Homo sapiens: one gene and its partner. Each later gene encodes a partner of the first gene's protein in a complex. Each region holds a gene or a part of one and is shown on either strand. Other genes may lie near its edges. The genes, in order: SHH and DISP1.

The links.
Region 2: the proteins of SHH (region 1) and DISP1 are in contact, whole or in part, in a cryo-EM structure (PDB 7E2I), measured with the Homo sapiens proteins. Residues at the interface, in NP_000184.1 of Homo sapiens: Pro49, Asn50, Val51, Thr55, Leu56, Gly57, Ala58, Arg68, Glu71, Phe73, Lys74, Leu76, Thr77, Pro78, Tyr80, Pro82, Arg96, Leu97, Gln100, Lys186; in NP_001356523.1 of Homo sapiens: Lys242, Thr244, Gly245, Tyr246, Lys247, Ala248, Glu260, His265, Arg299, Phe336, Gly337, Asp338, Leu339, Cys340, Gln341, Arg342, Thr343, Glu459, Arg899, His904, Asp906.

What each region holds. Positions count from the first base shown.
Region 1 is NC_000007.14:155,799,205-155,802,492, reverse strand, and holds the end of SHH (sonic hedgehog protein isoform 1 preproprotein), read left to right. Parts: 3' UTR 1-2,247; coding exon of another isoform or gene 2,248-2,486; 3' UTR 2,487-2,513; downstream 2,514-3,288.
Region 2 is NC_000001.11:222,999,757-223,006,517, forward strand, and holds the end of DISP1 (protein dispatched homolog 1), read left to right. Parts: intron 1-2,628; coding exon 2,629-6,216; 3' UTR 6,217-6,239; downstream 6,240-6,761. UniProt on the Homo sapiens protein: Functions in hedgehog (Hh) signaling. Regulates the release and extracellular accumulation of cholesterol-modified hedgehog proteins and is hence required for effective production of the Hh signal. Synergizes with SCUBE2 to cause an increase in SHH secretion.

The DNA of each region.
Region 1 (3,288 bases):
GCTCAGAGTCTATTTTTCTACATGTCCCTCGTCCCGGCTGTCAGAAAGCAAACCTCTGTCCCCGCCATCCCTCCCTTCCATCTCCTGCTTCTCAGCAAGTGCAAACTCAAACGTGCTTCATGGGGGTCCACAAATTATATTTTTATACACAGAATTGTAAATTAGATTTTTTGAGAGATCAATACTTAACTGAATTACATTTCATTTTTGAAATAGTGTAAAATATGAAAATATATTATTTTAATTTAACTAGTTTCCGATGTAACAGCCATCTCCTCTGTTGTCTTTATGGTTTCATATTCCCTTTGTATTCACCATTTTGCCACATTCTTGGAAGCCAAGACTGTTACACACACAACATACACACACACTTTTCTTTTTCTTTTCTTTTCTTTTTTTTTTTTTTTTTTTTTTTTGGACAAACTGGAAGAACTGTTATTTTTAACTTCAAAGAATTTATTAGAAAATAATATTTTTTAAAAGCGCACATAGTGACGAGCCCACGAGGATGGAGCCTGCAGTTTGTACAGAGAAAACAAAGGATGTTTTTGCATTAATAAATTGAGAAATAACGCTGTAAATTTACTAAAATGTATTTTTGAATATTTTGTAATAGTTTTATAGAAATAAAATGTGCCATGCACAGAACGCTTAGTATCTAATAACTAAGAATTCCTGTTGCAGCCCTTTTTCTTTTAGTTTTTGGCTTCTTTGTTTGGGAAACCTAGCGCTGACAGGAGCTCCCAATATTCTATTTAGATGTGTTGCTTATACTGTGAACTCAGACTGACTGACTTAGGTAACCAAAGTAGGCACACAAACCAACTTGTTTCTTCTCATGGCTGGAGAAACCTCAGCTCTGTTTGTATTTATTGTGTGAAGCTCTTTCTACACTCCCAAAGGTTGGGAGTGCCATTCGTGGGGACTGTGCTGTCCCCCTCACCCCACCCCTTAACTAGCAAAGCCTGATGTGTAAGCCCAGAGGAGGTGGCCTGGGGATGGCCACCAACAACCTTCTCTTAGGACTCCTGTGTGTGGTTGCTGGGCAGACCCCTGGCCTGACCCTGTTTGTGCTTCTCTGATCTGTAGGGAGGAGGCTCATTGCTGCTTTCTGAGGTCCTGTTGTGTCCCTTCCAGAAAGCATCCTTAGAAGAGAGGACCCGGTTTGATCTTCTCTGAAGCTCCTATCCTCTTTTCTTGAGGGTCCCCTTAAATCTGAGTGGCAAGCCCACAGTGGCGAGGGCCAGTCGCTGGAATGTCGGGGCTGCTGTTGAGGTCCTCAGGCTACACTGGTTGTCTGTGTCACATGGCGGTCGGGCGTGGACTTTGATCCCTGTTGAGAGAGCATGCTGCTGTGGGCGCTGGGCTGGGGAAGGTCCTTCCATGCTTCATGCTGCCTTGGAGGTTTGGCCAAGAGGGTCTCTGCCCTTGGCGGTTGTCAGGGTCCCAGGTGGAGGACTACTCCCAGTTCTTTGGCTTACGGAAGGTGTCTGCCATGCTTTGTGCTTTGGGCCGAATCGTCTGAGCAGGCTGGGCCTTGGAAGAGTTGCGCTGCATGAGCTTGGGGCCTCCCAGCAGCTGCAGCCTGTGTAGAAGGTGGTCCAGGCTTAGGGAACAGGAGTGAACAGACTTCAGCCCCACCTGGCAGGGGCTGGCTCCCGAGGTTGGGCCCAGTCCCTGAGGGTCTGCTCTGCTACGGGTCTGCCCTTGAGTGGCCTTCCGTGGAGGGTGTGTGACCAGGTGGATGGCGCAGGGCCTCTGGAGCCCTCTCCTCAGGAGCAGTCCTCAGCCTTTTTCTGTAAAAGACTTTTCTTTGGTGTTCTAGGTGGTCAGCAGGTTCCAGGCTGGTGTTTACAATCTCGGAGGAAGTGCGATGGTTTCTGTTCTTTTGACAGTTCAGTCTGATTTCAAGTCAGTCGAAAGCGAACCAGAAGCACCGGGCACAGCAGCTCCTCTGGCTGTGTAGACAGACCTGGCAATGTGGCCGTGCAGCCCAGACGATCAGAGAGAAGCCAGGCGTTGACCAAGCCCCAAGGTGCCTGAGGCCATGGTGCAACTCTGCTGGTGACTGGGGCACCTTGGAGCAGAGCTTCACCCGGATGGGAAATCCTCACTCCTGGGTGGCACTCCCTCCTGGACAGGCCCGGTGGCAGAGTGTCCGTGCTGCTGGGTGCTGTCCCCAGCCCTCCTGGTCCATCTTCTTAAGATGCGTCCACTGCTTTATATTTAAAATTCTCTTTTTCACAGGCAAGGAAAGGAAACCACTGCTTAGAGACACTAGGTACAGGGCATCAAGAGGGTGCAGCCCAGCCCCGCCAGGACGAGGCGCCGACTTCTCATTCAGGGTTGACGGAGCCAAGAGTTTGTGCAAAATGTATGCATGGTGGTTGCTGCCAGCCTCCCTCATGACTAAATGCATATCTATTCCTGTCAAAACGTGTATCACAATGTACTTGAAACTGTTATCTTTGTGCTCTATTGTTTGAATAATTAAAGAAATTACAGAGACTCTCTTCAGTGTCTGTTATGTGGCAGAACCCCGCTCCCGAACTGTCATCTGTGTTTCTCATCGTCTTCCACGAGGTAGTGCTGGGACTGTGAGGGAAATTCTCATTGAGAGTGCAGACTCCATTCTCTCAATGGGTGGGTTTGGTCAGGCTTTGGGAATTTTTACTGGCGCAAGGAGGCAGGCACGTGACTCCCCTGTCTGAGGGAGTTGACAGAGCTGTCAGCATCGCACCCACGTGGGAAATATGGGGCAGACATGCAGGGAATACCGGTCAGTTACAAGATTTGGCAAGAAAGCAGCAGAGTGCCTGCCAGGGAGGCGGGCGGGCCTGCAGGGAACCAGCTCTTCCTCGGCGCACGCGCTCCGTCCTTCCGGATGGTGATCCACTCTAGGAGGCTGAGAAGCCCAGGAAGCGACTTCCGTATGACTTCTTACAAACGAGTCACAAAACCCTTCGTGAGCCCTGCCGTTTCCGGGCACTCCCTGGGATTTATGTTCCAGGACAGAGCTGGGCAAATTTTGGCCTCTGGGACAAATCTGGTCCGAGGGCTGTTTTCACACAGTCCCTGAGCTGAGACTGTGTTTACATTCTTAAAATGTTTAAAAACAAAAAATCTAAAGAAGACTGCTATTCTCTGACATGTGACAATTCTGTGAAACTCAAATTTCAGTGTCCATACATAAAGTTTTATTGAAACACACCCACACTCACTCACGTGTTGTCTGGAGTAGCCTCTCCACTAGCCCAGAGGAAAGCCACAGAAACCACCTGGCCCGCA
Region 2 (6,761 bases), on another chromosome or scaffold:
CTCCATTCCTTTAAATTCAGCGTGTTGGCATCCAACTCAGGGTAGAGAAAACCAGTCACGATGTCTTTTCTCTGTCCTTATTTCTTACCCTGTATGAGTTCTCGAAAACTGGTTTTCCAAAGGTTGACCATCAATCAGTACCATCTTTGAATTGGAGGACTGGCTCCCCAGTGACTTACTAGCACTCGTTTTTAATAGCAGCCATCAAAATAGCATTTAATCTGTGTTTATAATGTCTAACCGCTTAATCTTTGGTCAACTATACACATCTAAAAATGTGCTATTATTTGAAAAGGTTATTCAAGGACAGAATTCTATGCTTTCTCTCCCAGTTTTAGTTGGCAACTCCATGTCCTTTATCTTTGGCATTTGGTTATTTCAGCAACTACAGGTATTTTCCTTCTAGCTGATAATGGATTTTCATAATGGATACAGTTCATTTTCTTCCATTTGAAAACTGTCAGACATTGGGGTTGCATTACCTTTCATTCAGTTCATCAAGCTGACCCTAGTGGTTTGTATGTTACGTCTTTGTAAGGTAAAACTGGTAACCTGCCATGAAAACCAGTGAGATGCCATTCCAGGGTTTCCTGTTGTTGGGTGGTTCAGTTTTCCCTAAGTTAGCGTATGTGAATGTTTTTATCTGGAAACAGTCAAGTATGAATTATCCTAGTTTATGGAATGTTTACGATTGCTCCTCAAAAATGAGCTTTAAAATGAAGGCTTTGTTAAAGTAAATATTATTTTAGTACATTTGAACAAAAACCTTTTGGGTTCATTTTTCTTTACCCTCAATCTGTAGAAAAACAAACAACTTTTTATTATGGAAATTCTCCAGCATATACAAAAGTAGAGAAATAGTATAATGGACTGTCGAAATAGGACACCCAATTCCACAGTCTCAACACATGGCCAGTCCTGTTTCATCTATACCCCACCCCCACAGGATTAGTCCCAGGAAAGTATCCTGATAAACAGAGTTCAGGGATCATAGGTAACTTGGTTCTTGGGTAAGTCCCAGTTCTGAAGCAGTGATTCATGCCAGCTTCTGCTCTACTTTGAGAAGACATTTCAATACATGATTGATAAAGCCAGTTTAATCAAGGTAAAGAGTGTTTTTAATCCTACTAGAAAAAAAAAATATTCACTTCCTCTTTGAACTTTGGAGTTTCTTCCCTGGAACAGCCTTTGGTAAATAGAGATGAGGGAAACTGATAGGACCAGGTCATCTTTAGTTCTGGTTCTCCTAAAGAGAAGTCTCTGGTCAGGCTCAGGAGAAGAGGAATATTTCTTATTCTCACCTCAGAGAAGAGGGGCTACTCATCTAATTTACAGGATGGAATGGTTCAGACTTTAATCTAGCAAACCAGTGATGGAACAATTTTTCAATTTTTTATAACAATAGCCATAAGATGGAAAGCCTTCTCCAGGAATAGTGTTTTAAATGAAATACTGTCCACACCAAATCCAGAATTACCATACTTGCTAATGTGCAGCAGGTCCTCATTTACCAAAAGAGAAAGTTTTCAAAAAAAGGATTTTTGCCAATTTGAATAAACTTTATGGAAGAAATAATTAAATTCTTACTTAGGCATTTATTTTATTGTATATACCAATTTAAAAATCAGATATCAATCATATTTTAATCCAGAAACATTGCCCTTTTCTACTCATACTTCAGGAAACAATTTTATTCCAAACCTTTATGCTTCTTGACATCAGCACTTTTGATATTACTGGGGTCACTTTTTGATTCACCAAACAGTCTTTGTCTTAATCTGTTTGGGCTTCTGTGACAAAATACCTCGGACTGGGTAATTTATAAACAACAAAAATTTAATTCTTATAGTTCCAGAGGCTGAGAAGTTCAAGATCAAGGAATTAGCAGATTCAGTCTGGTGAGGACCTGTTCCTCATAGATGGGGCATTCTACGTGTCCTCATGACCTCTTATAAAAGCACTACTCCCATTCATGAGGGCTCCTCCCTTGTGATTTAGTCACCTTCCAAAAAGTCACACCCCCTAACACTAACACACTGGGGATTAGGTTTCAACTTGAATTTGGGAGGAGCACAAACATTCAGACCAAAGCAGTTCTCTAGGGAATATCATCTTTGCTTCTAACTGTGTTGACTGAAATATAGTACTTTAGTCACCAACAATTTCATGCTGATAACCAGAATTTTAGGCAAAACCACAAATTTGTTTCATATATCAAGTGTACGGTTTTCTTAATCCTATGCATGTATATACATAAGCTTCACAACCTGTCCATTTTATTGCTTTTTAAAGTGGCTTTGAAAAGGCTTGTTGACTAAGTAGGTGTTAATTTGATCTCCTTTTGTAAACAAAACTAGCATTGGTTGAAGTTGTTTCACACTTGCATGTCATCCCCAAACAGTAGTTTTTAATTCAGAATAAAGTAACCTAAAGGGCATCCTGTAACATGACGCCATTTAGGGGAAATTTCACCCTGTATTCAAACTGATTCCTAGTTTAAGTGGATAATTATTTAGCTTTTGTAACTTTCCCTGTCCCTCAAGATCACCTTAGTGCAGTCCTTTCCAGTTGTGAACGATTGTGAACCAATTTAAACTGTAGTCCTTCTGCTTGTCTCTATCTCTGCAGATCAGATCTCATCCCCAGTTTGGTGATCTCTGCCAGAGGACCACTGCTGCCTCCTGCTGCCCCAGCTGGACACTGGGAAACTACATCGCCATTCTGAACAATAGATCGTCCTGTCAGAAAATAGTTGAGCGAGACGTTTCTCATACCTTGAAGCTGCTTCGGACTTGTGCCAAACACTACCAAAATGGCACTCTGGGGCCAGACTGCTGGGACATGGCAGCCAGAAGAAAGGACCAGCTCAAGTGCACCAATGTGCCACGCAAATGTACCAAGTACAATGCTGTGTACCAGATCCTCCATTACTTGGTGGACAAAGACTTTATGACCCCAAAGACGGCTGACTATGCCACGCCAGCTTTAAAATACAGCATGCTCTTCTCTCCCACAGAGAAAGGGGAGAGCATGATGAACATTTACTTGGACAACTTTGAAAACTGGAACTCTTCTGACGGCGTGACTACCATCACCGGGATTGAGTTTGGTATCAAACACAGTTTGTTTCAGGATTATCTTCTAATGGATACTGTGTATCCTGCCATAGCCATTGTGATTGTCCTTTTAGTTATGTGTGTCTACACCAAGTCCATGTTTATCACTCTGATGACAATGTTTGCAATAATCAGTTCTTTGATTGTTTCCTATTTTCTCTATCGTGTAGTATTTCACTTCGAATTTTTTCCTTTTATGAACCTCACTGCCCTCATTATTTTGGTTGGAATTGGAGCAGATGATGCTTTTGTCCTGTGTGATGTTTGGAACTACACAAAATTTGATAAGCCTCATGCCGAAACCTCAGAAACAGTAAGCATCACCTTGCAGCACGCTGCCCTCTCCATGTTCGTCACCAGTTTTACCACTGCTGCTGCCTTTTATGCTAACTATGTTAGCAACATTACAGCAATCCGATGCTTTGGGGTTTATGCGGGGACAGCTATATTGGTGAATTACGTTTTGATGGTCACATGGCTTCCAGCAGTTGTTGTGCTGCATGAGCGGTATCTTCTTAATATATTCACTTGCTTCAAAAAGCCCCAGCAGCAAATATATGATAACAAAAGCTGCTGGACAGTGGCTTGCCAGAAGTGCCACAAAGTACTCTTTGCCATTTCAGAAGCATCTCGAATTTTTTTCGAAAAAGTATTGCCATGCATTGTCATTAAGTTTCGCTACCTTTGGCTGTTTTGGTTCCTTGCCTTAACTGTAGGTGGGGCCTACATTGTATGTATAAATCCAAAGATGAAACTGCCCTCACTGGAGTTATCCGAGTTCCAGGTGTTCCGGTCGTCCCATCCTTTTGAGCGTTATGATGCTGAATACAAAAAGCTTTTCATGTTTGAACGTGTTCACCATGGCGAGGAGCTCCACATGCCCATCACAGTAATCTGGGGCGTGTCCCCAGAAGACAATGGCAACCCACTAAATCCCAAGAGTAAAGGGAAGTTGACATTAGATAGCAGTTTTAACATCGCCAGCCCAGCTTCCCAGGCCTGGATTTTGCACTTCTGTCAAAAACTGAGAAACCAAACATTCTTTTACCAGACTGATGAACAGGACTTCACCAGCTGCTTCATTGAGACATTCAAACAGTGGATGGAAAACCAGGACTGTGATGAGCCTGCCCTGTACCCATGCTGCAGCCACTGGAGCTTCCCCTACAAGCAAGAGATTTTTGAACTGTGCATCAAGAGAGCTATCATGGAGCTGGAAAGGAGTACAGGGTACCATTTGGATAGCAAAACCCCAGGGCCGAGGTTTGATATCAATGATACTATCAGGGCAGTGGTGTTAGAGTTCCAGAGTACCTACCTCTTCACACTGGCTTATGAAAAGATGCATCAGTTTTATAAAGAGGTGGACTCGTGGATATCCAGTGAGCTGAGTTCGGCCCCTGAAGGCCTCAGCAATGGTTGGTTTGTCAGCAATCTGGAGTTCTATGACCTCCAGGATAGCCTCTCCGATGGCACCCTCATTGCCATGGGGCTGTCAGTTGCTGTTGCATTTAGCGTGATGCTGCTGACAACTTGGAACATCATCATAAGCCTTTATGCCATCATTTCAATTGCTGGAACGATATTTGTCACTGTTGGTTCTCTTGTCCTGCTGGGCTGGGAGCTCAATGTGTTGGAATCTGTCACCATTTCGGTTGCCGTCGGCTTGTCTGTAGACTTTGCCGTCCATTATGGGGTTGCCTACCGCTTGGCTCCAGATCCCGACCGAGAAGGCAAAGTGATCTTCTCTCTGAGTCGCGTGGGCTCTGCGATGGCCATGGCTGCCCTGACCACCTTCGTGGCAGGGGCCATGATGATGCCCTCCACAGTTCTAGCTTACACCCAGCTGGGCACCTTCATGATGCTCATCATGTGTATCAGTTGGGCTTTCGCCACCTTCTTTTTCCAGTGCATGTGCCGGTGCCTTGGACCACAGGGTACCTGTGGTCAGATTCCTTTACCTAAAAAACTACAGTGCAGTGCCTTTTCCCATGCCTTGTCTACAAGTCCCAGTGACAAGGGACAAAGCAAAACACATACCATAAATGCTTATCATTTAGATCCCAGGGGCCCAAAATCTGAACTGGAGCATGAGTTTTATGAATTAGAACCTCTGGCTTCCCACAGCTGCACTGCCCCTGAGAAGACCACTTATGAAGAGACCCACATCTGCTCTGAATTTTTCAACAGCCAAGCAAAGAATTTAGGGATGCCTGTGCATGCAGCTTACAACAGTGAACTCAGCAAAAGCACTGAAAGTGACGCTGGCTCTGCCTTGTTACAGCCCCCTCTTGAACAGCATACCGTGTGTCACTTCTTCTCTCTGAATCAGAGATGTAGCTGCCCAGATGCCTACAAACACTTGAACTATGGCCCACACTCTTGCCAGCAGATGGGGGACTGCTTGTGCCACCAGTGCTCTCCTACCACTAGCAGCTTTGTCCAGATCCAAAACGGCGTGGCACCTCTGAAGGCCACACACCAAGCTGTCGAGGGCTTTGTGCACCCCATCACGCACATCCACCACTGTCCCTGCCTGCAGGGCAGAGTAAAGCCAGCCGGAATGCAGAATTCTCTGCCTAGGAATTTTTTCCTCCACCCAGTGCAGCACATTCAGGCCCAAGAAAAAATTGGCAAGACCAATGTACACAGTCTTCAGAGGAGCATAGAAGAGCATCTTCCAAAGATGGCAGAGCCATCGTCATTTGTCTGCAGAAGCACTGGATCGTTACTCAAAACGTGTTGCGACCCCGAGAATAAACAAAGGGAACTCTGTAAAAATAGAGACGTGAGCAATCTGGAGAGCAGTGGAGGGACTGAAAACAAGGCAGGAGGGAAAGTGGAGCTGAGCTTGTCACAGACGGATGCAAGTGTGAACTCAGAACATTTCAATCAGAATGAACCAAAAGTCCTATTTAATCATTTAATGGGGGAGGCTGGTTGTAGGTCTTGCCCAAATAATTCACAAAGTTGTGGCAGAATTGTGAGAGTGAAGTGCAATTCTGTGGACTGTCAAATGCCAAACATGGAAGCCAATGTGCCTGCTGTATTAACACACTCGGAACTTTCTGGTGAAAGTTTGTTAATAAAAACACTATAATAAATGCAGCATTCAATTCAGAACCAGTGCCTCAATTATTCTTTTAACATGGAAGTAAAATCCAGAAGCTTAGAAAAGAAGCCCAAAAATACAGCAACAAGCATGTTTCACATTAACAATTTTAGAATATTTTTATATTCCGTAGGAACAACAAACTTACAAATCTGCTGAGTGCGTTAGGTTATTGGATTGGATGATTGTTGGATTTTATATTTTCAAAAAGTATAGTTGTTTTTTACATTTATGCCCAGCTTGAAAAATAACTGTCTCTCTTTCTACCCTCCCACTGCAGTGAGTCGGAGATTTAAAGTTTAAAGTTTCCGTTCTCCCGGGCCATCATATTCACCTGGTATCCTCATTCTAGTGTATTTCGTGGGCAGTAATCAGTACTTTTGATTGCTCAACATGAATACTAGGAATTGCTCTAATTTTAATAGAGCCAGTTCAGTTGGGATTCAAGAACTAAATTAAAACTTACATTTTTGGTGAGGCCTCATGTAAAAAATCAATTGCCAAGCACCTTAATAATGCATTCCACATGTCTG